Linked DNA regions of Homo sapiens: all the other regions are linked to region 1. Evidence: fine-mapped expression QTL. A gene starts in region 1. Each other region holds a variant in brackets. All regions are shown on one strand. Distances are from middle to middle.

Region 1 (10,729 bases):
CATGGGAAGCTGAGGCAGGATAATTGCTTGAACCTGGCAGGTGGAGGTTGCCGTGAGATGAGATCACGCGCCACTGCACTCCAGCCTGGGAGACACAGACTGTCTCCAGAAAGAAAAAAAAAAAAAAAAAAAAGACAGAATGGAAAAGAAGAAGTAACAGTCGAAGAAAAATATGGCGTAAAAACAAATCGAAACAATACAGGAAGTAAAAAAAGGATAATGCATACGGGCGCGGTGGCTCACGCCTGTAATCCCAGCACTTTGGGAGGCCGAGGCAGGAGGATCACCTGAGGTCGGGAGTTCAAGACCAGCCTGGCCAACACGGTGAAACCCTGTCTCTACTAAAAAATACAAAATTAGCCGGGCGTGGTGGCACATGCCTGTAATCCCAGCTACTCAGGAGGCTGAGGCAGGAGAATTGTTTGAACTCAGGAGGTGGAGGTTGTGGTGAGCCAAGAACACACCATTGCACTCCAGCCTGGGCAACAAGAACGAAACTCCATCTCAAAAAAAAAAAAAAAAAAGATAATGCAGGAGAGACAAATAGCACAAAAGATGCAAATATAACCCCAGAATATCAATAACTACATTAAATTAATTAATTAATTTATTTTTGAGTCGAGGTCTCACTCTGTTGCCCAGGCTGGAGTGCAGTGGCACCAATCACGACTTACTGCAGTCTCAACCTGCTAGGTTCAAGTGATCCTCCTACCTCAGCTTCCCAAAGTACTGGGCTTACAGGCATGAGCCACAGCAACCCCCGGCCCTCTACATTAAATTTAAATGGAATAAATGCTCCTGCTTTTAAAAAAAGAAATACCATCAGGCGCGGTGGCTCATGCCTGTTATCCCAGCACTTTGGCAGGCCAAGATGGGCAGATCACCTGAGGTCAGGAGTTCAAGACCAGCTTGGTGAACATGGTGAAACCCCATCTCTAGTAAAAATACAAAAATTAGGCCGGGCGTGGTGGCGGGCGCCTGTAGTTCCAGCTACTTGGGAGGCTGAGGTAGGAGAATGGCGTGAACCTGGGAGGCGGAGCTTGCAGTGAGCCAAGATCGCACCACCACATTCCAGCCTGCAGCCTGGGTGACAGAGCGAGACTCTGTCTAAAAAAAAAAAAATACAAAAATACAAAAATTAGCCAGGTGTGGTGGTGCACGCCTATAATCCCAGCTACTCGGGAGGCTGAGGCAGGAGAATTGCTTGAACCCGGGAGGCGGAGGTTGCGGTGAGCCGAGATCACATTATTGCACTCCAACCTGGGCAACAGAAGTGAGACTCCGTCTCAAAAAAAAAAAAAAAAAAAAAGCCAAAAGGTGAAGTGAAAGGGTGAAAGGGTAGAAGAAGACCTGTCAGGAACCCTCAGGCAGGACTGACAGGTGTGCAGCCCTGTGCACCACTCCCAAGAGCACCTGGAAGTCCTTAGTGGATAACTGTGTGCATCTATGACATGGCAACTCCACAACCAGATGTGTTTCCAAGAGAATTCTTACACAGCTCCATAAAAGGAGGTATACCAGATGCCCACTGAAGCTATCTATCATGACAACCATTGTGGATTCACACCATTCAGAGGGACACAGCAGTAGTGGGCAAGGGCCAGATGTGCCACAGCAATGTGGCTAGGTCTTACACTACACCGACTTTGCAAGAACTCAAATAATGAAAAGGATGTACCTTATACATAGCAGACCATAGCAGACGGTTGCCTGTGGGGTGGGAAAGGAATGAAATGGTCCTGACATATTAAAGTAAATATATAGGCCAGGCATGGTGGTGCACACCTATAGTTCCAGCTACTCAGGAGGCTGAGGGAGGAGGATGGCTTGAGCCCAGGAGTATGAGACCAGCCTGGGCAACATGGTGAGACTCCATCTCACAAAAATAAATATGTAAGATAGCGGGGGTTGGTCTTGCCCAGACCCAGGATGATCACCTGCCATGAGCAGAGGAGTATGACCATCTCAACCCTCTACACCGAGGCCAAACACAAAGGAAATACAGAATACGGCAAAGAGCCACACACAGGGGCCTGGAACCTTGGTCCCAGCCATGAAACAGTCTACACCCAACATGCAGGTAAATTCATAGGCTGCGCTGGGAGGACACAGATAGAGCTCACACTGGGGCACATGCTTACGCACTGCACCCTACAGGCTCCACAAGCGGGTTCTGAACAAAGGATACCCCTCAGGGGCATGCGCATACTGTGGGGTATAGTCAAGCCCAAGTACCCACCCTGAGGACATCTTGGCACAGGTACACACCCGGGGTGAGTCACAGGACCAGCTGAGGCCAAGGACCTCTAAGAAACCTGCTCAGCCCAAGGCTCAGCAAGCTGGAGCCCTCAGGGTAGGGAGGAGATGGACAGGGGACTAACTGAGCAGGTCTAGGGGGTCCAGCCCAGAACAGGGGATCCCTAAACCCTCTGCTCCAATGCTCTGGCCACCATCTTGAGAGGGCTGAGAGGCCAGAGGGGCAGAGCTATCTCTCTTCCACATACTCTCCTGTGGGGCACAGGCTCAAGCCACCCACCCTGTGACCCACTGGTGCACCCACCTGGCCTCAGGCACAGCACACCTTTCCTCGCTCCACACAAATTTCTTCAGCACGTCAGAGCAGCAGTATTGGTCATCACAGGTACCACAGCAGAAATCTGGACAGGACTCGGGGAAGAGGCTGAGTCCACGGGAAGCCATACACACCTCACCACGTGCTGGAGAGGAGAAACACATCTGTTCACCTGTGCCCACGGGCCAGGCCCCAGCAGACACAGCGCCCTCCCTGGCACAGCCACCAGACCACACACACACACACATGCTGCACCGTCTCTGAGCCACCCTAGCCACAGGCCACCTTCTGACCCCTGGCCACTGCTCCCCCTCAGCCTTGCCCTATCCCACGGGCCACAACAGAGCTGCCCTAACTGGGCTCCCTCTCTCCCTCACCAGTGCACTGGCCTCCTGATAGGAGGGTGAACTTTCTCAATGTGAGTCTGATGGGGCCACACCCTGCTCTCAAACCTCCCCTAATTCCCACTGCTTCAGGATCAAGGCCCGAGTTTCCAAGCAGGGTCTAAACTGCAGAGTCCTGAAGATCACTCCAGCTCTCCAACCTGTCCACACTCCGCTCACATTCTTGCCTGGTTCCTATCTCCTGCCTTTCAACTCTACTCATCCTTCAAGGCCCTACTCCAGGTGGCCTCCTCCAGAAGCTGCCCAGGCGAGAAGTCACACAGCTCAACACCTGCAGGGGACCAGACACTGGACTGTCCCTTTCTTTCTTTTTTTTTTTTTTTTTTGAGACAGAGTCTCACTCTGTTGCCCAGGCTGGAGTGCAGTGGTGCGATCTCAGCTCACTGCAATCTCTGCCTCCCAGATCCAAGCAATTTTCCTGCCTCAGCTTCCCGAGTAGCTGGGATTACAGGTGCCTGCCACCAGGCCCAGCTAATTTTTTGTATTTTTTAGTACAGACAGAGTTTCGCCATGTTGGCCAGGCTGGTCTTGAACTCCTGACCTCAGGTGATCCACCCATCTTGGCCTCCAAAGTGCTGAAATTACAGGCATGAGCCACCGCACCCCAGCCAGACTGTCTAGTTCTTAATCCTCGTTCACTCTCTCCCTCACTCAACCACAGCAACCTCAGCCCCTGCTGGGCACCACAACTGCAGGGGCCTGGCTCTCACAGACCACCCCATAACCATGATGGCAGGCTAGATCCTGGTCAGAAATTGTCACACCCACCATACCAGCGTTCATAAAGCACTTAGCCCCGCGCTGGGCCTGCAGCAGGTGTCCAGGAAATGTCTGTGCCTTCCAGGAGTTTGAGACCAGCCTGGGCAACAGGGCTCCAAGGCAGTGGCACCATCTGTAGCCCTGGAGCCATCACAAGACTCTCAGCACAGAGTTGGGATCTACTGACATCCTTACAAGTCTCAATAAACGAGGTCATGCTGAGGGGATCTGGCTGACAACAAATGTGGAAAATAACCCAGGTTTTTGGATGACCACAAGGTTTACAAACCTCCAGGAAGATGCTACAGTCAAATGTTCCCATGTATCCTCAGGCTACATTAGCAGAGACCTGTGCCCACTAACAGGAAGGAACAGTACCGGATTCTGCCAGGGCAGACTCCAAAGAGAATACCTAGTCCAGCAAGGCCCACAAGTCCGCAGTAGGCAGGGGACAGGTCTGATGATAGCCCTGAGGCATAACTACATCGGCCTGGAAACAGTCTGCCATAGCACGTGGCCTCTGGAGACCCAGCCAGGCCAGGCACCTGGCCATGTGCAGCATCTGGTGCCCGGGCCTGATCAGGACACCACACACCCCGAGGCTGTCAGTAGAGTGAAGCCCAGAGACAGAGACACCAAGTGACCTCCTTGGGAAGAGGGAACTTTAGTGGGGAGTTGGGGGGAACTGCACTTCTTGGCAGCTCCAGGCAGAACCCTGCTCTGGGCAAAGCCATGGAGCAGAGGATTGGACCATTGACAAGCCCAGTTTGGCCAGCTGCCCACCTGAAAGCTGGTATCATCAGCATGGCCCGTGCCTGGTGGCTCAGGTGAACCCATATGCAGCAAGGTCTTCACAGCCCAATCTGAGCCTCTGAGCTAGGGCTGAAGACACACCGGTGAGGCTGTTTAGGCTGAGTCCATGGCACAAATGCTCTCTGACCCCCAGACCTCACTGAATCAGTGACCGACCCTCCTACAGGCTCACTCCAGGAGTGGGCGGATTCTGGGCACAAGTCTCCCCTTTCTCATTTCTCTAGCCCAGGTCCTCTGGATTCATCCCAGCCCCCAGGAAATACAGCCTTCCCCTCCACGAAGCCACCCACCCCAAAAGGGTCTTTGGCTTCCCATGGGTGGGCAGGGGATTGTTCCAATTCCTAACCCTTTAAAGGACCCGCCCCCAGCCAGCCTTCCAGACTCTGTGAATCACCTATCTGCAACCAACACACACAGTGGTGTCTCCACCCCAGAGGCCAGCCTCAGCGCCGGGCTCTACAGGAACACAAGGGCCAACGGAGGCAGCGGTGGGGGCTCCCAGACATTAAACAGAGGCAAAGAGGGAAGGCCTCTGATGGAGGGGCCAGCTCGCCCTGCAGCCACCCGCCAGACTAAAGCCAGGCAGGGAACCCTACCCTAGCCTCTGGGGACTCCATCCCCTGGAACATGGGCGGGAGGGCAGACCCCTCCCCACCGTTCCAGGACAGACAAAGGTGGCAGCTGCCTGGTGTCTAGGCAGGGTTGTTCAGGCAAGGAGGGTGCTGGGGTGGAGGAGGGGTCCGCAGTCGTGGGGGTTCGCTGACGGCCTCGGGGCAATCAGGGGTCAGTGGGGGGCATAGTGGGGCTGGTGCTGCCCGGCTCGTTGGAGAGGCAGCGCGGGGAAGTGTCTGCCCGGTCCCAGGGCAGGACGGGCCGCCCCCACCCCCGGCTCACCACCCGGAGGCGGCGTTAGCAGCAGCAGCAACAGCAACGGCAACAGGATCCGCGGCGCGGGGACCGGCGCAGTCATGGCTGGGCGGGCGGACGGGCGGACGGACGCGAGCGCCGGGCGCAGTGCCGCCACAGCCTCAGTGATCCGCGCGGCCGCCCCTCTCCCTCGCCCCGCCCCGCCCCGGCCCGGCTGGTTCCCGGAACCTCTGTCCGGGGGAGCAGGAGGAGGAGGAGGGAGGAGGAGGGAGGAGGGAGGAGGGAGGAAGGTGGAAGGAGGAGGAAGGAAGGAAGCGGACGACTTCCCAGCCTCGGGGCCAGCTTCGCGCCCGGGGTCTGCGCGAAAACTTGGTACCGGTTCCCAGACTCGGACAGGCGCCGGGCGACGCACGGAGTTTCCTTCTGCTCACCGGATGCATGGGGGGCGGCGGCGGCCCCCAGCTCTCAGGCCTGGAGGGCGTCCCCGGGAATATGCACCCTGACACTGAGCGCCTACTGTGTGGGCTGGGGGACAGCCACAGCCATCCCTCCCAGCCGCAGTCCCGGCGGATCCTCACTTGCCCGAGGGCTACGTGAGGACTAGGTGAGGCGGTGCGAGGACAGTGCCCAGCGCAGACCTTGGCACTCAGTAGACACTCCACAAATGCCGGTTCCCTTCTACAGGCCCAGTCGCCAGCTCAGAGGACACTCGATCTCCTGCCCCCTGGGACTGACACCATCATCCCAAGGTGATCCCCAGCCCCAGCCCTGGCAGGCTCAGCGCTGGCGCAGTGGGCCAGGACTGAGCTAGAAACTGGCAGCTCCCAGGGCACACAGCCAGGCCAACTTCCCACACAGGGCTCCGCCCCCTCACTTCGGGGCAGGGGTCCAGGCAGAATCAGGGATGTTGAGTCATTCTTCCTTTTATGCCCAGAGTTCCTGACCCACCCCCACTCTGCACCTAGCACAATCAGAACATTTCACTCAAGACAGAAAACGTGAAATGTCACACTAGTGGGGCACCCAGGCTGGGTTGTGCACCCTGTGTGCCACCATATATTTCTCACCTAAAGGTGGGGGCATCGCTGTGGACAAAGAGAAACCCAAGGGGACAATCTGGGATGTTCCCAGTAGTTTCCCAGGCTAGGGTGTTAGAACAGGGAGAGGAAGGCCTGGGTCTCCAATAAGCCCCCATCACCTCCTGGCCAAGAAGGGCTTAAGACTCACCGTGCTCAATACACATGTGGGGGGCAGGGATATGACAGTTCCCAGGCAGGATGCCCTCTGGGAGGGTCTTAGTGAGGGACTGGAGTCACATCCTCCCTGACAGCCCAGCCTGGTTATCCCACCTCTGCCTCCTGAGCGCCACTCTCCAAAGCTGGGTGCAGCCTAGGTCCCCCTTCTGCAGAATGGCCAGTGTATGCTCCTCATGTCCAGCTCTAGAGCCATCCTGTGTTCCACACCCTGGGTGCCCAGCCCTCTGCCTCCCTAAAGGTTGCTCATTCCACTCTGCACCATCCACAAGCTTGGTTTCTTGTTCCTTGGTTTTCCAGTCCCTGCCCCCCAGCCAAGCTCCTAAGAGTTGTTCTAAGCCTGGGCAACATAAGGAGACCCCATATCTACAGAAAATTTTAAAATTAGCTGGGTATGGTAGCAAGCACCTGTGGTCTCAGCTACTTGGGAGGCTGAGGTGGGAGGATCATTTGAGCCCAGGAGATGAAGGTTGCAGTTATGATTGTGCCACTGCACTCCAGTCTGGGCAACAGAGCAAGACCCTGTCTCAAAAATAGAAAAACAAGGCCTGGTGCAGTGGCTCACACCTGTAATCCCAGCACTTTGGGAGGCAGAGGCAGGCAGATCACCTGAGGTTGGGAGTTTGAGACCAGCCTGACCAACATCTCCATGTTGGATAGACATGGACCAACATCTCCATGTTCAGTAGAGCCCCGTCTCTACTAAAAATACAAAATTAGCCAGGTGTGGTGGTGCATGCCTGTAATACCAGCCACTCAGGAGGCTGAGGCAGGAGAATCGCTTGAACTCGGGAGGCAGAGGTTGTGGTGAGCCAAGATCGCGCCATTGCACTCCAACCTGGGTGACAGAGCAAGACTCCATCTCGAAAAAAAAAAATGAAAAAAAAAAGAATTGTCCTTTCCCACCTCCTATGCTTGCCTTTGGCTTCTCTACTCTGCTGCCCCCAACCCCAGATCCTTTAGGGGCCTCTCACCTGGCCTCTTCCTCCCTACTTTTTTGGTCTTTGGCTCTCCCATACCCTCTTATCTGCCCACAGCTCATGGTTGAGCTTGGTGGGTGTTTTGGGCTCCACCCAGGGCTGTGCATGGGCAGGAGTGAGTGGAGGCTAGGATCACCCCAGTGGCTTGGAAATCGCAACCATGCATCTCACAGGCATGTGCCCATGTGTGCAGGCATTTTCTGTGGGTCTAAGGGAGGAGACCACCCCTCATATTGTCTTATGCCCCATTTCTGCCTCCAAAGAAAGAAAAAGTAAAAACTAAAAGGCAGAAATGAAATCCACAAGCAGACAGCCCGGCGCCACACCCTGGGTCTGGTAGTTAAAGATCGACCCCTGACCTAATCAGTTATGTTATCTATAGATTACAGACATTGTATAGAAAAGCACTGTGAAAATCCCTATCCTGTTTTGTTCTGACCTAATTACTGGTGCATGCAGCCCCCAGTCACGTACCCCCTGCTTGCTCAATCGATCACGACCCTCTCACGAGCACCCTCTTAAAAGGGACAGGAATTGCTCACTCGGGGGACTCTGCTCTTGAGACAGGAGTCTTGCCGATGCCCCCGGCCAAATAAACCCCTTCCTTCTTTAACTCGGTGTCTGAGGAGTTTTGTCTCTGCAGCTCAGGCTTGCAAAGCCTGGAAATACAAGTTGCCTGGGGAAAGTGACCCCTCCAAGGCAGAAACCAAACTTGGCCCAGATGCTGTACCAAGGCTAGGACTTGGCCCAGATGCTGTACCAAAGCTAGGTGGCTCCCCAAACCTTCCTACAGCTCTGTAAACAGCAATTTTTTTTTTTTTTTTTGAGACAAGGTCTCACTGTCACCCAGGCTGGAGTGCAGTCACGGCTCACTGCGGCCCCAATTTCCCCAGGAAACTGGGGTGATCCTCCCACCTCAACCTTTGGAGTAACTGGGACCACAGATGCACACCACCACGCCCAGCTAATTTTTGTATTTTTTGTAGAAGTAGGGTTTTTGCCATGTTTCCCAGGCTGGTCTCGAACTCCTGGGCTCAAGCAATCTGCCCGCCTCAGCCTCCCAAAGTGCAACAGCACTTTTATCAAACTCTCCTCAAATACCCAGTTTGTTAAGAATGACTGTGTTCTGCTGGGACCTTGGTTACAGTTTGTAGGTGAGAACTCTGCATCAGGCTGGTGGAGCAAAGCAACACCCACTGATGCTTGTAAAGCCCAGGGTGAGAGTAACCAGGTGAGAATGAGGCCATCAGCCCAGCCCCAGGACTGACTGCAGGACCAGATCGGTGAGTTCTACAGTGGAACGCTTGCTCAAGGATCCTTGCCATTCTTCTTCATTCAGCACCTGGTCCCCTTTCCTCCACATCAGAGGAGGAACACGCTAGATATTATCTTTTTCAGATTCCTTTGCCCCAGGGCAAGAGCTTTTGCCCAGCCCCAACCAATCAGATGTAGCCTCCCTGGAGTCAGTCAGGGGTACTGGCCACCAGCTTTGATGGAGGGCTGCAGCAGTCCTGGCAGAAACATGAGTCTGCACCTGTGGGGAGGGCTGTGTGAGTCACAAAGGCCCCTGCTTCCCCCTCGTGGCAGGAGCAGTGGCATGCTCACCAGGCCAAAGTAGCACTGTGGTTTGGGCTGGAGACGATACTGCTTCGACTTGGAACCTTTCTTTCCAGCCGCCTTGTTGGCTCTGAGGGCTCCACAGTTGCTTTTCATAAATTGGGTTTCTGATTAAGTTGGGCAGAGTCAGTTTCCTCCAACTGACAGAGAAGTTCTCACCAGGGCCGGGCACCGTGGTGACTCATGCCTGTAATACCAGCACTTTGGGAGGCAGAGGTAGGCAGATACCTCTTGAGCGCGGAGTTTGAGACTAGCCTGGGCAACATGACAAAACCCCGTCTCTACAAAAAATACAAAAATTAGCTGGGCATGGTGATGCGTGCCTGTATTCCCAGCTACAAGGGAGGATTGCTTGAGCCCAGGAGGCAGAGGTTACAGTGAGCTAAGATTGCACTACTGCACTCCAGACTGGGCAACAGAGCAAGACTCTGTCTCAAAAAAAAAAAACCTAAAAAAAAAAAGAAAACATCTGGACAAGGTGGCTCAAGCCTGTAATCCCAGCACTTTGGGAGGCCGAGGCGGGTGGATAACCTGAGGTCAGGAGTTCAAGACTAGCCTGGCCAACATGGCGAAACTCCATCTCTACTAAACATACAAAAAAAATTAGCCAGGCGTGGTGGCGTGCACCTATAATCCCAGCTGCTCAGGAGGCTGAGGTGGGAGAATCACTTGAACCAAGGAGGCGGAGGTTGCAGTGAGCCGAGATCGCACCACTGCACTCCAGCCTGGGTAACAGAGCGAGACTGCTTCAAAAAAAAAAAAAAAAAAAGAGAAAACTAGGCTGGGCGTTGTGACTCACGCCTGTAATCCCAGCACTTTGGGGGGCTGAAACGGACAGATCACTTGAGGTCAGGAGTTCCAGACCAGTCTAGCCAACATGGCGAAACCCCGTCTCTACTAAAAATACAAAAATTAGCTGGGTGTGGTGGTGCATGCCTGTAATCCCAGCTACTGGGGAGGCTGAGGCATGAGAATCACCTGAATCTGGGAGGTGGAGGTTGCAGTGAGCCAAGATCGTGCCACTGCACTCCAGCCTGGGTAACAGAGTAAGACTCTGTCAAAAAATAAAAAAATAAAAAAAGGGGAGACAGAGAGAAAGAGAGAAATAAAAAATAAATAATTTTTTTTAAAAAATTAGTCCCCATCAGGAATGGTAGCAGATGCCCAGGGAAATGGGGGTGTCCGACTTGTCATCTGCCTGGTTGGAGCTAAAAGCAGTGGAAGTCCAGGCCTGAGGAAGGAAAGGGCTCTGGCAACTTGTGGCAGGCAGAGGAGACCGAGCTGGTAAAGTCACTGCTGGTGGTGTTGCATGATAAAAAACTAAATATTTAGTTTTAGTTCTCCATTCCTCACACAGAACTCCTTAACCCCTTAGAATTTACCATCCTTCTGATGCAAATGAGATGACTCCTAGCAGAGGGCCACTAGATAGCTTCACGATATTGGCCTGAAAGACCAAATAAG
Region 2 (10,729 bases), 21 kb after region 1:
GAGAGTGAACACCTAAGAGCTGCGCCGGAAGAAACTGGGGCTGGGCAACCTCCGCGCAGCCCATGCAGATGCAGTCTGGTCAAGTGACTCTTAGCAGCAGGTCAGGAGCCACGCACAACCTTGTCGCCGACTGTCAACAAAGAGCCAGGTGGGCTGGGGTGGGGGCTCTGGGTTCCGCCAGCCATGTGTGGCTTCAAGAATATCCCTGCATGGCATGGTGACTATCACACACACTGGAGGGCCTGGAATGACCCCCTCTGCAGAGAGCAGTGCCTGCCTAGTGGTCACAGTGGATGAACATGGTCACTGGTGAGCAGGCACCGTGACAAGGGCTTCCTCTGGAGGTCTTGAGATGTCCACGTTCTGTACAATAAAAACACAGAGCGTTCACTCCATGGCAGGAATAGATGAGATGCCTGCTGTCTGCCGTCCTCATCACTGTGGTTCATCAGGCTTCACATTCTCACTGTAGCAGCCACAGCCGCAAGACTCTAGACCACAAGCTTCCCTAAGAATACATGGCCAAGAGCTTCGTGCCACATAGCGGGTGGATGGACAATAGAACAAAGGTGCGGTGGAGGATGCCACCTCGTTTCCTGCTCCACTGCAGCCAGGTCAGGCAATACCCAAAGCAAGGCCACTCCCACCTCCTATCTCAGGGCTGAGTCAATTGAGGAGGAACCCCTGGCTTGGGGATTTTATCCTCATCTGTGGGGCAGGGAAGGGGTTCAACTCCTGGGGGTGCCTCCTTCCTAGTTTAAAGTGTTGGCACGCAGGTGTCAGAGGTGCCCCAGAAGCCTATGGGCATTTCCTGGTCTGCAGCCTGGTCTGTCCCCTCAGAACTGGGGTACAGGGCCTCCTGAAGCCCTCAGCTATAGAAGGACCCCACCAAACTGCAGAGCTCAGTCCCATCCTTGGCCTGTCGGGCTCAGGGAGTCTCAGGCCTGAGGAATAGGGAATCTGAAACTTCCCTTAGCTCTCTGAGGCTGTCTTATGTGCCCCAGAGCCTGGTGGCCCCTCCTCCCAGCTGTGGGCCCCGGAACCATCACCTGCAGGAGCAGGTCACTGATGACCTGAGCTGCTGCCCCATGCAACATGACATGCCCAGATCTTCAGGGAGAGAGACATGGCCCCCATGGCCCACAGCCTGGGCTCATAGGACCGGCCCCTGGAATTGTAGGGGCAGGTATAATTCTTACTGCTGGGCAGGCTTCCTGAGGCGCCCCTTTTCCACCACAGCCTGCCCCAATGGATGGGCCAGAAGGGAGCCATCCAGGAACCTGGGGTTAGTAGCGGTTTGCCTCTCAGAAGCACCCACCCATAGTGGGCAGAATGACCGCCAGCCACACTATGGTGATGGACTGGTAGGGTCAGCTCCCAAGGGCTGCCAGGCCCAGGGACCTCTCTTACCATCACCCTGCCAACCCAGGGGCCTCTCTTACCATCACTCTGTCAGCGCTGGGGGCCCAGTGCCATCTGGGCCTTCCTTGGCCCAAAGGATGCCCGTTGGGAGGTACGTTCCCCTGTGACTTGTGGGTACCAAATTGGGCCTGGGCTGAACTTGGCCAAGACATGCACGAACTATCAGAGCAATGGGAAGAGAGGCCTGCAGGGTAACTGGTCCTGCTTGGGGGCAGTGGTGTTGGGAAGGGACAGGACACATCTACACACCTGTGCTGTGAGGTCCAAGGCCAGATGTCCTGGTCCAGCCCAAGACGTGCATCCTCAGCAGGGACCCAGAGCCCAAGCAGGCCCCATCATGGATGGCAAGAGGCATGACTGAGGCCCAAGAGCCTTCTCCGTGCAGTGGCCTCCAGGAACTGGGACCGGGGCTCCCAGAAGTGTAGGTCCTATCCTTGGCCCCAGTGGGAGAGGGAGCCAACATTGTGGAGGGACCCCACATGGGACTAAGAGTGGTTCTGAGCTACACTCTGAGGAGCTTCTACCTTCCACAAGGCACTTGGGGAGCACAGGTGGTGACTGCTTTTCTGGACCAAGGTCTCCACCCCATGCTGAGGCCCCTTCAGTATCTGCATGGCCCTTTCCCCAAAAGTACATGATCCCATTTTAATTTTTAAAGGTGCTGGGGTTAGGAAAGGGGCTCATGAGGCCTCGGCTGCAGGGATGGGGAGTGGGAAGAGTGCCCACCTGCCCTCAGAAGGCCAGAAGCCTCATTCTTAGCCTCCAGCCTCATTCTCACTGAGCCCAAGGGCCCCCTTGACTTAGACCTCCAAGTTGCTGCTTGGGAGCCCTGTGGCTCCTCAAGTCCTGGGGCTCCAACCACACCCAAGTTCAGGCACTCCTGAGCCTGGTGGCCCAGAGTCAGGGATTTCCCCATCCCCAGGGCAGGTGCCTTGGGAAGGCCTGATGCAGGCCCCACCCAGAGCCAGGGCCCCGCCCTGCTGATGGGACAACAGTCTTGGCAGAAGACTCAAGCTCCCTCTGGCAGGTGCCGCAGCTGGGCCTGGCCCTGGAGGATGTGCAGTCTGGACACCCCCACATCAGGAACACCCCGCTACCCCAGCAGTGACCCCATTGCTACCTGAGGCCTGTCCCGGTGCGTGTTCACAGCAGCCACGTTCAGGAATATGGACTCCACTTTACAACCTGCCAAAGGGAAGATGCAAATCCATCCCCACTCCTGAAAGGCAGCTGAGCTGCAGATGCTAGAAACTTCTCTTGGAGGGGGGTCTGGGCGTGTGGAATGGAGCAGCCATCTCAGCCTCACTCTAGTTCTTCCACTTTAGGCAGCTCTGGGGAGCCCCGGGAGGAAGGATGAGACACGCTGTCAGACCCACGCATATCTATGTGACGGCCCAGACAGGGCCACACAGAGGCCCCAGGCTCCCCAACCCCAGGACCGAGAGGGATCGGGGGAACAGCAGGCCTAAGTTGAGGTTACTGACTCTCAAAGTCTTCAGGGCCCCCAAACCACCCACATTCCAACTCTACCATATAAGGCCCAGTCAACCGTGTGCCAGGTGCACAGTGCAATGGGGGATGAGGCCATTGTCACACACTGGAGTGACATCAGCTGCCACTGGGCTTCACAGCCATTCCCCCAAGAGCACCTGTGTTAAAGGTGAAGAGCTAAGACCTGAGAGATGAAGAAGTTGCCTGAAGTCTCTGCTGGTATAGCAAGAGGCAGGGTGGGGACTCACACTGCCCTGCACCCAGAATAAAGTCCAGGCCCTGAGGACCAAGGGGCCTTGTGGGGGTTCAGAAAAATCAGTAGAAAAGCCCCTCATGCAGGTAGGCAATGGTTAAGCAAAGTCACTGGGGAGGTCTTCTGTGGCCACATAAACTTTTTCACAACAAACTTTTTTTTTTTTTTTGAGACAGGGTCTCGCTCTGTCGCCCAGGCTGGAGTGCAGTGGTGCGATCTCGGCTCACTGCAAGTTCCGCCTCCCGGGTTCATGCCATTCTCCTGCCTCAGCCTCCCAAGTAGCTGGGACTACAGGTGCCCGCCACTACGCCCAGCTAATTTTTTTGTATTTTTAGTAGAGATGGGGTTTCACCATGTTAGCCAGGAGGGTCTCTATCTCTTGACCTCGTGATCCACCCACCTCGGCCTCCCAAAGTGCTGGGATTACAGGCATGAGCCACCGCACCCAGCCCCAGAACAAACTTTTTAAAAGCAAATTAGGGCCGCAGATGGTAGCTCATGATGGTAGCTCACGCCTGTAATCCCAGCACTTTGGGAGGCCGAGGCAGGTAGATCACCTAAGGTCAGGAGTTCGAGACCAGCCTGACAACATGGTGACACTCTGTCTCTACTAAAAATACAAAAATTAGCTGGGCATGGTGGCAGGCGCCTGTAATCCTAGCTACTCGGGAGGCAGAGGCAAGAGAATCATCTGAACCCGGGAGGTGGAGGTTGTAGTGAGCCTAGATCACGCCATTGCACTCCAGCCTGGGTGACAAAGCGAGACTCCGTCTCAAAGAAAAAAAGCAAATTGGGAAAGGTGGTGGGGTAGTAGGTGGAGGAATGGGCTCCTAACACAATTTTCAAGGAATTCGGAGAAAATCATGGAACTGTGCAGAGATCCAAGGTCATGGCTACCCATGGTCAATGTGCAGGAAGCTTCCTTACCATATGCCACAGGAGTCAGCTTCAGGACTGTGTGCAGCGGACACTTGAGGTAGGGCAGCTGTTCTGTAGACACAGAGGGGGATGGCTAGCACACCAGAAATGCCTGGTGACAGTGCCTACCTTCTCACACAACCTTCCCACCTCCCCCGGGGCACAGCCCACACCTGCTGCCTTGTCGAGGAAGTAGGCCAGCAGGCAGCGCATCACAGCCTGGTGGCAGATGACCAGCACATTCTCTTGCCTCTCCAGCTCCATGATGACAGGCTCCAGTCTCTGGACCAGGTCCTCGTAGGACTGCAAGGGCAAGCAGAGAGGGGTCCCTCAGGCCTGGCTCCGGGGGAGGGACAGACACATCCTGGACACTGGGCCACCTTCCACTCCTGCAGCTACTCACCATTCTGGGAAGCTGTGGCTGGGCCTCCTCCAGCCTAGCCTTCTGAGGCCATGGGGGTGGGCAGCTGAGGAAAGGGGCCACCTTTCCCACCTCAGGGCTAGGTCCTGGTAGGATTGAGAGCGCAGAGCTAGGCCTCAGGCTCCATCCCAGGGTCCACCTCAGTGCCCACCCATGGGGCTCTGCACTGAATCCTCAGCTATAGAATTCATGTGACTGGTGGAGAAGACCTCGCCTGCTTCCAGCCCACAGCAAACAGAGTGCACTGACAAGAGCGAAGGGGAAGAGAGCAAAGACCTGGAACTTTCTGGAGTGTGACTCATCAGAAACAGCTGGGGTCCCCAGGAACTATCCTCAGTCTACCTGCCCAGTATCTTCCCCCTATGCCTGCCGTGATGTACGGTTTAGGCCCCTGCTGGGCCTCTCAACCTGGCAGGTTTAGAGATTTTCATCAGTTTCATCCTTCTGCACACAATGAGTGGTCCTTCAAAAATGGCCTCCAGCAGTCAGAACTGAACGTGCCCCAAGCTTTGATTAGGAAGCAAAAATGACACGCTGATTTGTGCCAGTTCCTGGTAGTTCTGAGAAAATCCTAGACCGGTTCTTTTGGTAACATGAATTTCTCAACCAATTCTCCTCACTGTATTCTCATGTTTGAGCAGCCAGCTGCTTTGTTTCTCCTGACCGTTATCTGGGTTGGTTCTAAATCTGAACTTGGCCTAACATAATGTGGGGAATAATTAATGTTCCCAAGAGCTATA[C/G]TATCCTGAGGATGGTACAGTGTAGAGACCTGTCAGCCTGGCTTCTGGGTGGAGGTGCTTCTACATGTGTATATATATGTGTACATATGTGTGTTGACGGGGTGTATTTTTATTTGGCCCCTGCCCCAGGCCACCTCCTGGAAGTGGAAGGAGATGCCTCAGTCAAAGGTGACCCTCAGTTTCTGACCTGGGGCCTGGGCTGAACTGTGTCAGAGAAGGTGACAAGTGCAGTGGCTTGTGGTAGCCAACTCATGTGTGGAAGGTCTCCCTGGGTCTGGTGCCAGGGCTGGGGGTGGTGCCTGGAGCCACAGGAAGGACAGGATGGGCTCAGCCTGTGACAAGAGGAAGCATCCAAAGGAAGGATGAGGCCCGAGACAGGGACTCGAGTGAGCTGAGACCCGAGTCCCAGGCCTGCCATGGTCTCCCCAACTCCCCAGCCATTTGAGCGCCCCGGAAAGGGCTGACAACTCGCTGGGAAAGGAGCTGGCCTGGGAATGCCAGGGGACCGCACACTGTCTACAGGGGTCCCAGGAAAGCCTAACTCCGCAGATCCCCCACCTCAGGCCCTGCCCTTCCGAATTCTCCACCCCTGGGAAGGGGAAAGACAAGAATGGAGAGCAGGGAGCCAAAGGTCTCCAGGTTGAAGGCCTGCCCTACATGGCACTGCCCACTCCACACCTGAGGAAGGGACTAAGGCCTGGGCTGCATAGCTGGGAAGGGGTGGAGATGAACCACACACCCAGGCTGGCAGGCCTCTGAGACCAGGCCCCTTCTGCTACCCACGCAGCCCCTGCAGAGCCCCACAGGCCCTCAGCCACAGGTGGTACTCCCAGGCGGGCAGTAGGTGGCTGGGACTAAGCCCCAAATCCCACCTACCTCCCCTTTAGGGTACCGGTACCGGTACTTGTCCTGGTCCCGCAGGGCGAACTCCAGTGGATAATTATCCTGAATTTCCTCGTAGGTCATTTCCTCACAGACGCCCTAGGGAGATACCACAGTCATCACACCTCCTACAGGCCCAGAAGATGAGCCTTGGGGACATGTGGGGTGAGGCAGCATCAAGCAGAAGAGACCAAGTTCACGGGCATTTCCTGGGTGAAGGGAACAGAAACCTGTCTAAGGAGGGGAGGACCTCTAGGAACACTGATCATTGGTGGTTCCTTGCTTGTAAAAAGCTACCAGGATGGTCTTGTCCACCTATCCATCACCCATCCAATACACACAGAGATGCTATGTGTTTTTTCTTTTCTGTGCTGTGGAAATAGTACTTGTGAGTGTAGGTTGTTATGCAAACTATGAAGGAAAACTTCACTTGTGTTATTTGGGATACACACACACACACAGAGCATAGATCATCTTCTACAAATGCCATTAAAAAAAAAAAGCTGGCTGGGCGCGATGGCTCACGCCTGTAATCCCAGCACTTTGGGAGGCTGAGGCAGGCGGATCACTTGAGGTCAGGAGTTCAAGACCAGCCTGGCCAACATGGTGGAGGAGGCAGTGGTTGCAGTGGGCTGAGATTGTGCCACTGCACTCCAGCCTGGGCAACAGAGAGAGACTCCCTCTCAAAAGAAAAGAAAAAAAAAGAAAAGTTGGCTGGGCGTGGTGGCTCACAGCTCACAGCCTGTAATCCCAGCACTTTGGGAGGCTGAGGCAGGTGGATCACCTGAGATCAGGAGTTCAAGGCCAGCATGGTCAACATGATGAATCCCCGTCTCTACTAAAAATACAAAAATTAGTTGGGCGTGGTGGCGCACGCCTGTAGTCCCAGCTACTCAGGAGGCTGAAGCAGGAGAATCGCATGTACCCAAGAGGTGGAGATTGCAGTGAGCCAAGATTACGCCACTGCACTCCAGCCTGGGGAAGAGAATGAGACTCTGTCTCAAAAAAAAAAAAAAAAAGATGGGGACATATTGGATTAGAGTGGGTCCTAAATCCAGTCATTGGTGTCCTTTTAAGAACGCCATGTAGGCCGGGCACAGTGGCTCATGCCTGTAATCCCAGCACTTTGGGAGGCTGAGGCAGGTGGATCATGAGGTCAGGAGTTTGAGACCAGCCTGGCCAATATGGTGAAACCCCGTCTCTACTAAAAAAATACAAAAATTAGCCAGGCGTGGTGGCTCACGCCTGTAGTCCCAGCTACTTGGGAGGCTGAGGCAGAAGAATCTCTTGAACCCGGGAGGCAGAGATTGCAGGGAGCTGAGATCATGCCACTGCACTCCAGCCTGGGTGACAGAGCGAGACTCCATCTCAAAAAAAAAAAAAAAAAGAATGTCATGTGAAGGCACAGACAGACATACATAGGGAAGAAAGCCATGTGATGACCGTGGACAGAGGTGGGATTGGAGTGATGAGGCTATGAGCCAAGAAATACCAAGGATTACCAGCAACAACTGGAAACTAGGAAGAGGTGAGGAAGCGTTCTTTATTAGCACCTTCAGAGGGAGCATGGCCCCGCTGACGCCTTGATTTCAGACTTCTAGCCTCCAGAACTGTGAGAGAATCAATTCATGTTGTTTTAAGCCACTCACCTGTAGTGCTTTGTTACGGCAGCCCTAGTAAACTAATACTTTTTTTTTTTTTAACATTTAGTGGTTTTTTTTTTTTTTTTGAGACAGTCTTACTCTGTCACACAGGCTGGAGTCCAGTGGTGTGATCTTGGCTCACTGCAGCCTCAAACTTCCCAGGCTCAGGTGATCCTCCCACCTCAGCCTCCCAAGTAGCTGGGACTACAGGTGTGCGCCACCACACTTGAATACTAACACATATTTTGGTACCAGGAGGTGAAGTGCTGCTGGCTGCTGTAATAAAGAACTAAAAATGTGGAAGTGGTTATGAAATGGGATAGTGGGTAGAGGCTGGAAGAATTTTGTGGTGCATGATAAAAAGCTTAGACTGTCTTGAAGAGACTGTTAGTAGAAATTTAGACATTAAAGATTATTCTGGTGAAGGCACAGAAGGAAGTGAAGAGGATGACAGAGAAAGCGTCCATCATCTTTTTTTTTTTTTTTTTTTTTGAGACAGGGTCTCACTCTGTTGCCCAGGCTGGAGTGCAGTGGTGCAATCTCAGCTCACTGCAACCTCTGCCTCCCATGTTTAAACAATTCTCCTGCCTCAGCCTCCTGAGTAGCTGGGATTACAGGCACAGGCCACCATGGCTGGCTAATTTTTTGTATTTTTAGTAGAGACGGGGTTTCGCCATGTTGACCAGGCTGGTCTCGAACTCCTGGCCTCATGTGATCTGCCCATCTCGGCCTCCCAAAGTGCTGGGATTACAGTCATGAGCCACTACGCCCGGCCAGCTTCCACCATCGTAAAGAGCACATATATCATCATGAAAAGAACGTTGATAGAAATATGAACATTAAAGGTGCCTCTGTGAGCCCACAAGGGGAAATGAGGTACCTTTTCCTGGACCCTAGAGAAAAGGTAATCCATGTTATAAAGTGGCAGAGAATGTGGCTAAACTGAGTTCCCATGTTGGACGGCTACAACCAAGACTGATGGTAACAAGCGCAGGCGGGTATGTGGAGAAATCAGAGCCCTCACACACTGCGGGAGGGAATGTGAGATGGCGAAACAGTGTGGCAGTTTCTGAAAAGGTTGAATGTATAATTACCATATGACCCAGCAATTCTACTCCTAGCGTACAGTGAGGAGAAATAAAAATATAAGTCCGCACAAAAACTTATGCCGGATGCGGTGGCTCATGTCTGTAATCCCAGCACTTTGGGAGGCCAAGGCAGGTAGATCTCTTGAGCCCAGGAGTTTGAGACCAGCCTGGGCAACATGATGAAACCCCATCTCTACAAACAAATACAAAAATTAGCTGGGTGTGGTGGCGAGTTCCTGTAGTCCCAGCTACTTGGGAGACAGAGGTGGGAGGATTGCTTGAGCCCAGGAGATGGAGGCTGCAGTGAGCTAAGATCGTGCTACTGCACTCAGCCTGGGCAACAAAGCAAGACCCTGTCTCAAACAAACAAACATAGAAAACACCTTGGACATGAATGTTCACAGCAGCATTATCCACATAGCCCAAAAGTGGCAACAACTCAAATGCCCATCAACTGATGAATGGATACATAATGTGTGGTATATTTATATAATAGGATGTTATTTGGCAATGTAAAGGAATGAAATACTGCTACATGCTACACGAATAAACCTTGAAAACATTAGTGGTAGCTTAAGGCAGAAGGAAGGGTTAGAGGGAAATGGGAAGTGACTGTTGATGGGCACAGGATTTCTATCTGGGGTGATGAAATGTTCTAAAACTGATTGTGGTGATGGTTGCACAACTCTGAACACACTAAAAACCACTGAACTGTATACTTATTTATTTATTTATTTATTTATTTATTTTTTTAGAGACTGAGTCTCGCCTTGTCTCCAAGGCTGGAGTGTAATGGCACGATCTCAGCTCACTGCAACCTCCACCTCCTGGGTTCAAGTGATTCTCCTGCCTCAGCCCCCCGAGTAGCTGGGATTACAGGTGTGCGCCACCACAAATGGCCTGAACTGTATATTTTAAATGGGTGAATTCTATGGTATATGAATTATATCTCAATAAAGCTATCATTTTTTTAAAGGAACTATAAGGCAATAAATTGTGGATTAAACTAAGAAAAAGTCATAATGTTGGAATAGAAGACAAGCCCAAGGCTGTTTATCAGAAGATAAACATGGAAAGATGATTAATGGATCATAAAAACTGTAATAGTTTCAAAACTTGAAAGATGAAGGAAATCCACAAGCATCTTGGAAAATAATCAGATTAACTTCAAAGGAAAAAAACTGGGGTGGCTGCAGGCTTCTCTGCAAAACTGAATGTTAGCATCAAATCTATATATTTGGAGGGAAGACACTGTCCTATAACCTGCCTCAGGTAGCTGCTGTTTGTGTGAGAAAGAAATCAGTGGCTGGATAACCCCCACCAAGCACAAAATGGGTTAAATGAGCTACAAAATGAGTTATAAAAATTGCTTACTTTTTTGAAAGAGATTATCAATTCTGAAGAGAAAGAATAGATAAAAAATAAAACCACAACTTGAGTTCAGGAGTTTGAAACCAGCCTGGGCAATATGGTGAAGCCCCATCTTTACAGAAAATACAAAAATTAGCCAGGCGTAGTGTTGCACACCTGTGGTCCCAGCTACTCAGGAGGCTGAGGTGGGAAGATGGCTTGAGTCCAGGAGGCGGAGGTTGCAGTGAGCTGAGATGGTGCTACTGCGCTCCAGCCTGGGTGACAGAGCCAGACCCTGTTTCAAAAATAAAATAAAATAGGCCAGGCATAGTGGCTCATACCTGTAATCCCAGCACTTTGGGAGGCCAAGGCGGGTGGATCACCTGAGGTCAAGAGTTCAAGACCAGCCTGGCCAACATGGTGAAACCCTGTCTCTACTAAAAATACAAAAATTAGCCAGGCATGGTGTCTCACAACTGTAGTCCCAGCTACTCGGGAGGCTGAGGCACGAGAATCACTTA
Region 3 (10,119 bases), 25 kb before region 1:
AGCTATGGCTCCTGTAGCTCTTGCGATTACAAAGGAATTTGCTTTATAATTACATGTTAAACTGAGTGTGTCTGTGCTTTCCTGTGTATGTATTATAGTTGACAATAAAAGAAGAAAAGAGGCCATGTGCAGTGGCTCACACCTGCAATCCCAGCACTTTGGGAGGCCGAGGCTTTTGGGAAGCTTGAGCCCAGGAGTTCGAGACCAGCCTGGGCAACATGGCAAAACTCCTTCTTTACCTACCAAAAAATACAAAAATTAGCCAGGCTTGGTGGCACGCACCTGTAATCCCAGCTACTCAGGAGGCTTTCTCCAGCCTGGGAGACTGAGTGAGAATCTGTCTCAAAAAAAAAAAAAAAAAGAAGAGGAAGAAAAGAAAAATCTGGGATTTGTCTCACCAGACAGTGAAATTTACAATAAAGGAAATTTTATTATTATTATTTTTTTGAGGCAGGGTCTCACTCTGTTGCCCAGGCTGGAGTGCAGTGGCACGATCACAGCTCACTGCAGCCTCAAACTCCCAGGCTCAAGTGATCCTCCCACCTCAGTCCCCCAAGTAGCTGGAACCACAGGCATGCACCACCACACTCGGCTATTTTTTTATTTTTTGTAGAGACAGGGTCTCACTGTGTTGCCCAGGCTAATTTTTAATCTTTAATTAAAATTTTATTTTTTAATTTAATTTTTTTTTTTTTGAGACAGAGTCTTTCTCTGTCACCCAGGCTGGAGTGCAATGGTGCAATCTCAGCCCACTGCAGCCTCCGCCTCCCCGGGTTCAAGTGATTCTCGTGCCTCAGCCTCCCGAGAAGCTGGGACTACAGGTGCGTGCCACCACACCTGGCTAATTTGTGTATTTTTAGTAGAGATGGGGTTTCACCACGTTGGCCAGGCTGGTCTCGAACTCCCGACCTCAGGTGATCTGCCCACCTTGGCCTCCCAAAGTGCTGGGATTACAGGCCTGAGCCACCGTGCCTGGCCTTTAATTAAAATTTTAAATAAAATAAAACTCCCTATTAGGCCCACAAAGCCATGTGTGGTCTGGAACTGCCCCCTCTCCTTCAACCTCTGTGCTGAGTCCCATCCCCCTCCTTTCAGCTTTGAAAGCACCATGCTGTGTCCTGCTCAAGGCCTTTGCACATGCAGATACTCCTGCCAGCTCAGCCCTTTCCTCCTTTCATCTCAGCCACACCTAACTCATTCCTGCTCACCCCTCAGGCCTCAGGTCACTTCCCCAGGAGCACCCTCCCCACCATGCAGAAGAGGCCAGGCCCCTCAGCACATGCCCGCACGGAATTAAATTCCTTTCTACTTCAGTTCATAAACACACACTCTGTTGTGTGTGAGCATTTGATCAACTACGTCTTGCCCCTGCTTTGTACCATTATCATCCAATACAGCTTTCGGCCACCACTATATTTCCAGTGCCTAGCATATAGTGAGTGCTCAATAAAAAAAAAATTTTTGCATAATGTTGTGAATTAATCAATAAATATTGGACAGGTAAATGAATAAATTCACTCAGAGACCCCACCCAGGCACGGTGACCTTAGAAAACCAAGCAACATTCAAGGGGTGGTTGCAGAGCGGGGCTAGGGTACAAGGCCACACGTGGCTACAGTACCAATGGAACTACGCCTCCGAGAGGAAGGAATGGGGTCTCCCAAGGCTGGGGCCAAGCTCAAAAGGCAGAGTCGGCCCAAGCAGGAGGGAGCAGAAGGCAGAGGGGCAGCCACCCCGGCAGGGAGTTTGGGCAGGATTGTAGGGTCTGGGGAGAACTCGGCGGCCTCCAAGAAATGGAAGACTCCAAACCTTAGACAGTGAACAGGCTGGCTCTGGACCTGGGATACCCGCACCCCCACCCTGGTGTCAGCAAGGCCCCAGACAGGCTTGAGGGCCTGAGAACCACAGAAAGGACGCTTTGAGGGCTGGGAGGTAGCACCGGGGCTGTGGCCACACCTCGCCTAATGGGCCTCTCTCCCTTTCCCCTGCACTGTGGCAGTGGAGTCACAGCAGAGGGTCAGTGGTGGCCTCCTTGGGGTCTGCAGCCAGAGCTTCTGCCATTCGGTACTTAGAAACCCAACAGTCTTGCCCGACAGTCCTGTGAGTGCAAGGAGCTGGGAAGAGGACATGACAGTAGGATCCAAAACAACCAGGAGACTATCTGGGGAGTGAATAAGGCAAGAATGGCTGGAGCCACTCACCATTAAACAGAGATTCACTTGCCAAAGTCTAGGGGGCAGAAGACCTGGGCCAACCCTGAGCCCACAAATAGGGCCACACTATAACCCCTGCCATGGGTGGCATCCTCCTGCGGCAGGGGTTCTGGGCCAGGCAGATGTGGGCCCATCTGGATCCAGGCTCCAGCCTGCTGCCTCATGCCTAGGGAACTCAAAAAGTAGCCCAGGTCGGGCACAGTGGCTCAGCCTGTAATCCCAGCATTTTGGGAGGCTGAGGCGGGCAGATCACAAGGTCAGGAGCTCGAGACCAGTCTGGCCAACATGGTGAAACCCCATCTCTACTAAAAATACAAAAATTAGCCGGGCATGGTGGCCGGCACCTGTAATCCCAGCTACTCAGGAAGCTGAGGCAGGAGAATTGCTTGAACCCAGGAGGCGGAGGTTGCAGTGAGCAGAGATTGTGCCACTGCACTCCAGCCTGGGCAACAGGAGAGAAACTCCATCTCAAAAAAAAAAAAAAAAAAAAGTAGCCCAGAGGGAGATAGCCAGAGGCAAGGGTCCCAAAATAAGGAGAGGAGGAGGGGTCAGTGGCAGAGAGTGGGGCAGAGCTGGGGTGGGGCTCCTGGCCTGGGGTCTTTCCCCTGCCTGGCTTCTCCTGAGCTCCTGGCCATGGCCTCGACAGCAGGGGCCAGGCCCTCAACATGGAGCCAACTCTCCAGTGGACAAACAGTGCCCTTGGCCAAGTAGGCAGCACATGGATGCCCAGCAGAGGATGTCTCCTTGGGACCCAGACAGGCAGCCACCTGAGAGAGTTCAAAAGAGAGGAGTCATTGATGACCCTGTCCCCCTCCCCTCCTCCCAGCACCCACTTCTTTGGCTCCTGCACCTTTATAAAGCAGGTCCTAGGCATGAGCTGGGGCTCAGAACAAAGCAGAGGACAAGAGATGACATGAGGCGCGGGAGGGGGAGCATCACTCCAGTCACCTGCTCTTCTCGATGCATGGGCAAAATAGCCTGGGGCAGGAGGCAGCAGGGCACGCCAAGCACACGGCACACGAGGCCCAGTGCTATGCACACCACGGCGGCAGCTGGGCTAACAGAACAGGTCCCACATGCACACCTTGGGGAGTCAGAGGTGCCTCTGAGCTGGCCCCAGTCACCTCCCTGCTGCCACAACCCCAGGAAGCCACTCCTCCTCCTATGCCCCTCTGGGAGCTTGTTCCGCACTGTCTCCTCCTTGTTGTCCCAGCTCAAATCTATAACATTGAGAAAAAAAAAAAAAAAAGAAACAGAACAACCCTTCACATGGATTCTCCAACTCCTTTTTTTTGTTGTTGCAACCTCTGCCTCCTGGGTTCAAGTGATTCTCCTGCCTCAGCCTACAGAGTAGCTGGAATTACAGGCACCCGCCAACACGCCCAGCTAATTTTTGTTATTTTTAGTAGAGACAGGGTTTCACCATGTTGGCCAGGCTGGTCTTGAACTCCTGGCCTCAGGTGATCTGTCCACCTCAGCCTCCCAAAGTGCTGGGATTATAAGCATTAGCCACCACGCCCGGCCTCCCTTTTAAAAACAAAAAACAAAAAACACGGGGTCGCCCAGGCTGGAGTGCAGGGATTATTCCCAGGCAGGATCATACCTCACTGTAGCCCTGAACTCCCGGCCTACAGCGATCCTCCTGCCTCAGCCTCCCAAGTAGCTGGGACTACAGAAGTGTGGCACTGTGCCCAGCTTCAATGCCTGTCTTACTCCTCATCCATTCACGGCTAAAACTCTCCAAGGAGTTGCCTGCGACCAGCATACAATTTCCAACTGCTCTTCAATCTGCTCCACTGCCTCGCTCTTGCCCAGGGTGCCATGGACTCCGTGGTGTGAAATCTCCATTCCACAGCGCACTTCACCACAAGCCTGCCCTCCTCCAGTGTCCAGCCCCTGCTCCTTCCCACTCCCTCCACACCCTGCCTTGTGGGAGCTGCTGAATGTAAGTCTCCATCCTCACCTCTTGCCACCAAGCTCTGGCTCTCTCTGGCTCTCTCTGGCCTCCAGCGCCTCTGGCCAGGAAGCCGCCTGAGGCCACCTCCTACAGAAACGACTTCCCACCTCCCACACCCACCCCATCTGCTCTTTCCATCTTCCACAGAGCAGCCAGTGTGGTCTTCCTAAAACTCCATTCGGTCCCCAGCGCTCCCAGAACCCTCTGTGATGCCCACTGTCCTCAGGACGAGGCCCACTCCTTGACTGCCTCCAGGCCCACACAGGCTGGGCATAGGCATCTCCCACGGGGCCATCTGAAAGCCCACAATCCTGGGCCTCAGGGCAGGACAGCCGCTCCTGGGCTCCTGGACGTGGAGGGGAAGGCCTGTAGAGATCTCAGGCTCCAACCAGCCCTGAGGTGTTGAGGAGGGGCACAGCTGCACTTCTTCCCCTCCTCCACGCACAGGAGCCCTGCCCTGATTCTGCTGTAGCCAGTGAGGCCCCACACCTGCCTGGGCCTACAGGATGGGATGGGGCAAAACAAGAACCCAAGCCCCCCACTCAGGCCCAGAGCCCAAGGTCTCTTCCTCCAAAGGGGAAACCCTGCCCTCCTGGGCAGACCTTTTCTTTAAGCGGCTTCTAGATCCACCAGGGAAGAGGGGAGACAGCAAGTGGAACAGACCCAGGCAGGAAAGCCCGCCCTAGTGGCTGCACACCCATTCCACCTCCAGGAAGATGTCACAACTCCTGTTACGGTGGCAATAACACAGGCCGGAGCCCAGCCAAGGGGACTGGGGTTTGGGGGCTGGGGTTGCTCCTTGGTTCCCTGAGAGGAGAGTCCTGACACAGTAACCATGACCCACAAAGCTTCACACAGGAACTGTGGCATCATTGGTTGTCCCAGGACCTCTCCCCACCGTTATCACCCCAATACCATGTGCTTGCCAGCACCACCATCACCCCATCACCATCACCATTGTCACCAATGCCCAATCACAATATACCCGCCCCCATCTACCATCATCGCATGCCCACTACAGCCCCTTCTCTGTCACTCCTGCCCCCATCGGGACCCATCAGTCATCTGCTGACTCAACCCAGCATCTAGGTCAATGTACCCCGGACCCCTGGCCCTTCAATTGTCAACCCCCGACCACAGTCACCCACGTCCCCACCACCCCAGCACACTAATGAAGACACCTTCACAGCATAAGGAGCAAGTGTCCTAGTGGTCAGATATGGTGACAGTTTCTTGGGCTCCACCCCAATGACCGAATCATCCCAGTCCCCCAGATGCACACTGGCCCCCCTGAGCCCTCTTGTCACCTTTGCCAGGAAGATGCACCCAGCCAGCAGGCTTTACTTACCCTGACATGGGGTCGTTGTAGCCAGGGCGAAACCTCAGCGCC[G/T]AGCCCAGCTGCTCCACCGGCTCTACACTGGCAGGCACGCTGCAAACAGGAAACCTTGTGATTAGCACAATGAAGCCCCACCGAGCGCCAGCACAAACACTACCTTAGGGCACCACAAAACGTGCACAGAAGCTACTATGAACCGGTGGCTTCAATGGCCTTCCAGAGGTGGACTCTGCCCACACCGGGATCTCATAGCACAAAGCCACACATCCTCTCAGGTGTCCACCAGACTGTCTCCAGGAGAGAACATATGTTAGGCCACAAAACAAGTCTCAGCAGATTTTAGAAGACAGATACCATACAAAGGATCTTCTCTGACCACAACAGGATGAAGTTACAAATCAGTAACCACATTGCCACAAAGTTTATTATAATTTTTTTTTGTTTTTGAGATGGAGTCTTCCTCTGTCACCTAGGCTGGAGTGCAGAGGCACGATCTTGGCTCACTGCAACCTCCGCCTCCCAGGTTCAAGCGATTCTCCTGCCTCACCCTCCTGGGTAGCTGGGATTACAGGCACCCGCCACCATGCGCAGCTAATTTTTGTATTTTTAGTAGAGACAGTGTTTCACCATATTGGCCAGGCTGGTCTCGAACTCCTGACCTCGTGATCTGCCCGCCTTGGCCTCCCAAAGTGCTGGGATTACAGGCGTTAGCCACCACACCTGGCCTACATTTCCACAAAGTTTTTTTTTTTTTTTTGAGACAGAGTCTTGCTCTCTCGCCCAGGCTGGAGTGCGGTGGCGCGATCTCGGCTCACTGCAAGCTCCGCCTCCCGGCTTCACACCGTTCTCCTGCCTCAGCCTCCCGAGTAGCTGGGTCTACAGGCGCCCACAACTACGCCCGGCTAATTTTTTGTATTTTTAGTAGAGACAAGGTTTCACCGTGTTAGCCAGGATGGTCTCGATCTCCTGACCTCGTGATCCACCTGCCTTGGCCTCCCAAAGTGCTGGGATTACAGGCGTGAGCCACCACGCCTGGCCTCCACAGAGTTTTTTTAAAAAGTACTAAAACAACAACAACAACAACAACAAAAAACTCCTACCTTGGGAAACTAAGAAGGTACAAAAAAAAAAAAGCAAAATAAAACCAAAACTCTTGATTTGTATTGTGTTAAATAAGAACTCATAAAGGATACTTACCTGGCAGGGGAGAAGATATCATGATCACGAAGAAGTAATAAAGGAAACTAACAAGTATGTAGAACTAAATGATGAAAATACATCAAAATTCGTGAAACACAGATAAAATAGTTCTTAGAGGGAGATTTGTATCTTTAATAGAATTTATCAAGAAATGGGGGGGCCGAGGAGGGTGGATCTCAAGGTCAGGAGTTTGAGACTAGCCTGTCCAGGATGGTGAAACCCCATCTCTACTAAAAATACAAAAATTAGCCGGGCTCAGTGGCATGCACCTGTAATCCCAGTTACTCGGGAGGCTGAGGCAGGAGAATCGCTTGAACCCAGGAGGCGGAGGTTGCAGTAAGCTCAGATCACGTCACTGCACTCAAGCCTAAGTGACAGAGCAAGACTCAAATGTCAAAAATAATAATAATTTATCAGAAAACAGGAATGGTTAAAAATAAATGATATGGGCCAGGGGAAGTGACTCATGCCTGTAATCCCAGTGCTTTGAGAGATCGAGGCAGGCAGATCAACTGAGGTCAGGAGTTCGAGACCAGCCTGGCCAATATGGTAAAACCCCGTCTCTATTAAAAATACAAAAATTAGCCAGGCGTGGTGGCGGGCACCTGTAATCCCAGCTACTCTGGAGTCTGAGGGAGGAGAATTGCTTCGACCCAGGTGGTGCAGGCGGCAGTGAGCCGAGATCACACCATTGCAATCCAGCCTGGGCGACAAGAGCGAGACTCCATCTTGAAAAATAATAAGAATAAATAAATAAATAAATAAATAAATAAGATGATATTAAACTCAAGATGAGCTGGGCGTGGTGGCTCACGCCTGTAATCCCAGCATTTTGGGAGGCCAAGGTGGGTGGATCATGAGGTCAGGAGTACAAGACCAGCCTGGCCAAGATGGTGAAACCCTGTCTCTACTAAAAATACAAAAAATTAGCTGGGTGTGGTGGCAGGCGCCTGTAATCCCAGCTACTCGGGAGGCTGAGGCAGAGAACTGCTTGAACCCGGGAGGTGGAGGTTGCAGTGAGCCAAGATCGTGCCACTGCACTCCAGCCTTGGCAATGGACCGAGACTCTGTCTCAAAAAAATAAAATAAAATAAAATAAAATAAAATAAACTCAAGATGATTTCTTTAAAAGTAATGGAAAATGTGGCCAGGTTGGTGGCTCACGCCTGTAATAACAGCACTTTGGGAGGCTGAGGAGGGCGGATCATGAGATCAGGAGTTCGAGACCAGCCTGGCCAACGTGGCGAAACCCCATCTCTACTAAAACTACAAAAATTAGCCTGGTGTGGTGGTGGCCGCCTGTAATCCGCTACTCGGGAGGCTGAGGCAGGAGAATTGTTTGAACCTGGGAGGTGGAGGTTGCTGTGAGCCAAGATCATGCCATTGCACTCCAGCCTGGGTGAAAAGAGCAAGACTGTCTCGGCCGGGTGCAGTGGCTCACGCCTATAATCCCAGCACTTTGGGAGGCCGAGGCGGGTGGATCACAAGGTCAGGAGATCGAGACCATCCTGGCTAACACAGTGAAACCCTGTCTCTACTAAAAATACAAAAAAAATTAGCCAGGCGTGGTGGCGGGCACCTGTAGTCACAGCTACTCGGGAGGCTGAGGCAGGAGAATGGTGTGAACCCGGGAGGCAGAGGTTGCAGTGAGCCGAGATCATGCCACTGCACTCCAGCCTGGGGGACAGAGTGAGACTCTGTCTCACAAAAAAGAAAAAAAAAAGACTCTGTCTCAAAAAAAAAAAAAAAAGTAATGGAAAACCCAAAAAACAAGGAAGAAATTAATAAAGGTAAGTGCAAAAATAAACCAGAATAGCCATAGAGAATAATAGAGAAGATTAGCAAACCAAAGCTAATAGACTTCTGACAAGACTAACCACGAAAAAGGAGGGCAGCCAAGTGCAATAGCACACACCTGTGGTCCCAGCTACTCAGGAGGCTTAGGTGGGAGGATCACTTGAGCCCAGGAGTTCCAGGCTGCAGTGAGCTGTGATCACGCCACTGCACTCCAGCCTGGGCGACAGACTGAGACCCTGTCTCGAAAACAATAAATAAATAAAATAACATAATAACATTATTTGGATTCCGATTTGGACAAACCATCTGTGAAAAGGCATTTTGGAAACTAGTGGAGGCAACTGAACACAGTATTTAAAGCTATCAGTGAATTACTGTTAATTGTGCCAAATATGATAGTGGTTATATTGCCCTTATATTGGAAGGGAAATAGTTATATTTGCCTTCAAGGACCTCATTTTTAGCAATGAAAACTCACTTTTTTTTTTTTGAGACAGAGTCTCGTCTCTTGTCGCCCAGGCTGGAGTGCAGTGGTGCAATCTCGGCTCACTGCAACCTCTGCCTCCCAGGTTCAAGCGATTCTCCTGCCTCAGCCTCCTGAGTAGCTGGGATTACAGGCATGTGCCACACACCCGGCTAATTTTTGTATTTTTAGTAGAGATGGGGTTTCACCATGTTAGTCAGGCTGGACTCGAACTCCTGACCTTGTGATCCACCCATCTTGGCCTCCCAAAATTCTAGGATTACAGGTGTGAGCCACCGTGCCCGGCCTTTTTCTCTTTGACACAGGGTCTCATCTGTCACCCAGGCTGGAATGCAGTGGTGTGATCACAGCTCACTGCAGCTATGACCTCCCGGGCTCAAGTGATCCTCCCACCTCGGCCTCCCAAGTAGCTGGGACTACAGGCACATGCCATCCCACCTAGCTAATTTTTTTTTTTTTTTTATTGATCATTCTTGGGTGTTTCTCGCAGAGGGGGATTTGGCAGAGTCATAGGACAATAGTGGAGGGAAGGTCAGCAGATAAACAAGTGAACAAAGGTCTCTAGTTTTCCTAGGCAGAGGACCCTGCGGCCTTCAGCAGTGTTTGTGTCCCTGGGTACTTGAGATTAGGGAGTGGTGATGACTCTTAAGGAGCATGCTGCCTTCAAGCATCTGTTTAACAAAGCACATCTTGCACCGCCCTTAATCCATTTAACCCTGAGTGGACACAGCACATGTTTCAGAGAGCACAGGGTTGGGGGTAAGGTCATAGATCAACAGGATCCCAAGGCAGAAGAATTTTTCTCAGTATAGAACAAAATGAAAGGTCTCCCATGTCTACTTCTTTCTACACAGACACAGCAACCATCTGATTTCTCAATCTTTTCCCCACCTTTCCCCCTTTTCTATCCCACAAAACCGCCATTGTCACCTTGGCCCGTTCTCAATGAGCTGTTCGGTACACCTCCCAGACGGGGTGGTGGCCGGGCAGAGGGGCTCCTCACTTCCCAGTAGGGGTGGCCGGGCAGAGGCGCCCCTCACCTCCCGGACGGGGCGGCTGGCCGGGTGGGGGGCTGACCCCCCCACCTCCCTCCCGGACGGGGCGGCTGGCCGGGCGGGGGGCTGACCCCACC

Evidence for each region. PIP is the estimated chance that this variant, and not a neighbour inherited with it, causes the effect.
Region 2: its variant is fine-mapped to the expression of SHISA5 in whole blood (TOPMed, PIP above 0.99).
Region 3: its variant is fine-mapped to the expression of SHISA5 in whole blood (TOPMed, PIP above 0.99).

What each region holds. Positions count from the first base shown.
Region 1 is chr3:48,498,577-48,509,305 of GRCh38, forward strand. SHISA5 (shisa family member 5) reads right to left here and starts at 5,598. Exons shown (of 6, transcript NM_016479.6): 1 at 5,443-5,598; 2 at 2,561-2,717. The coding sequence starts at 5,518. RefSeq lists silencers at 5,253-5,302, 5,313-5,792 and an enhancer at 6,130-6,683.
Region 2 is chr3:48,519,444-48,530,172 of GRCh38, forward strand. PFKFB4 (6-phosphofructo-2-kinase/fructose-2,6-biphosphatase 4) reads right to left here. Exons shown (of 14, transcript NM_004567.4): 10 at 6,122-6,226; 11 at 4,258-4,387; 12 at 4,094-4,156; 13 at 2,543-2,607; 14 at 1-363. The coding sequence ends at 304. Among named protein-coding and RNA genes, the nearest start is that of SHISA5, 21 kb to the left of the region's middle. The variant C/G (reference allele first, on the strand shown) is at 5,246.
Region 3 is chr3:48,473,659-48,483,777 of GRCh38, forward strand. SHISA5 (shisa family member 5) reads right to left here. Exons shown (of 6, transcript NM_016479.6): 3 at 5,519-5,599. Among named protein-coding and RNA genes, the nearest start is that of TREX1, 12 kb to the left of the region's middle. RefSeq lists enhancers at 613-1,472, 5,814-5,863. The variant G/T (reference allele first, on the strand shown) is at 5,561.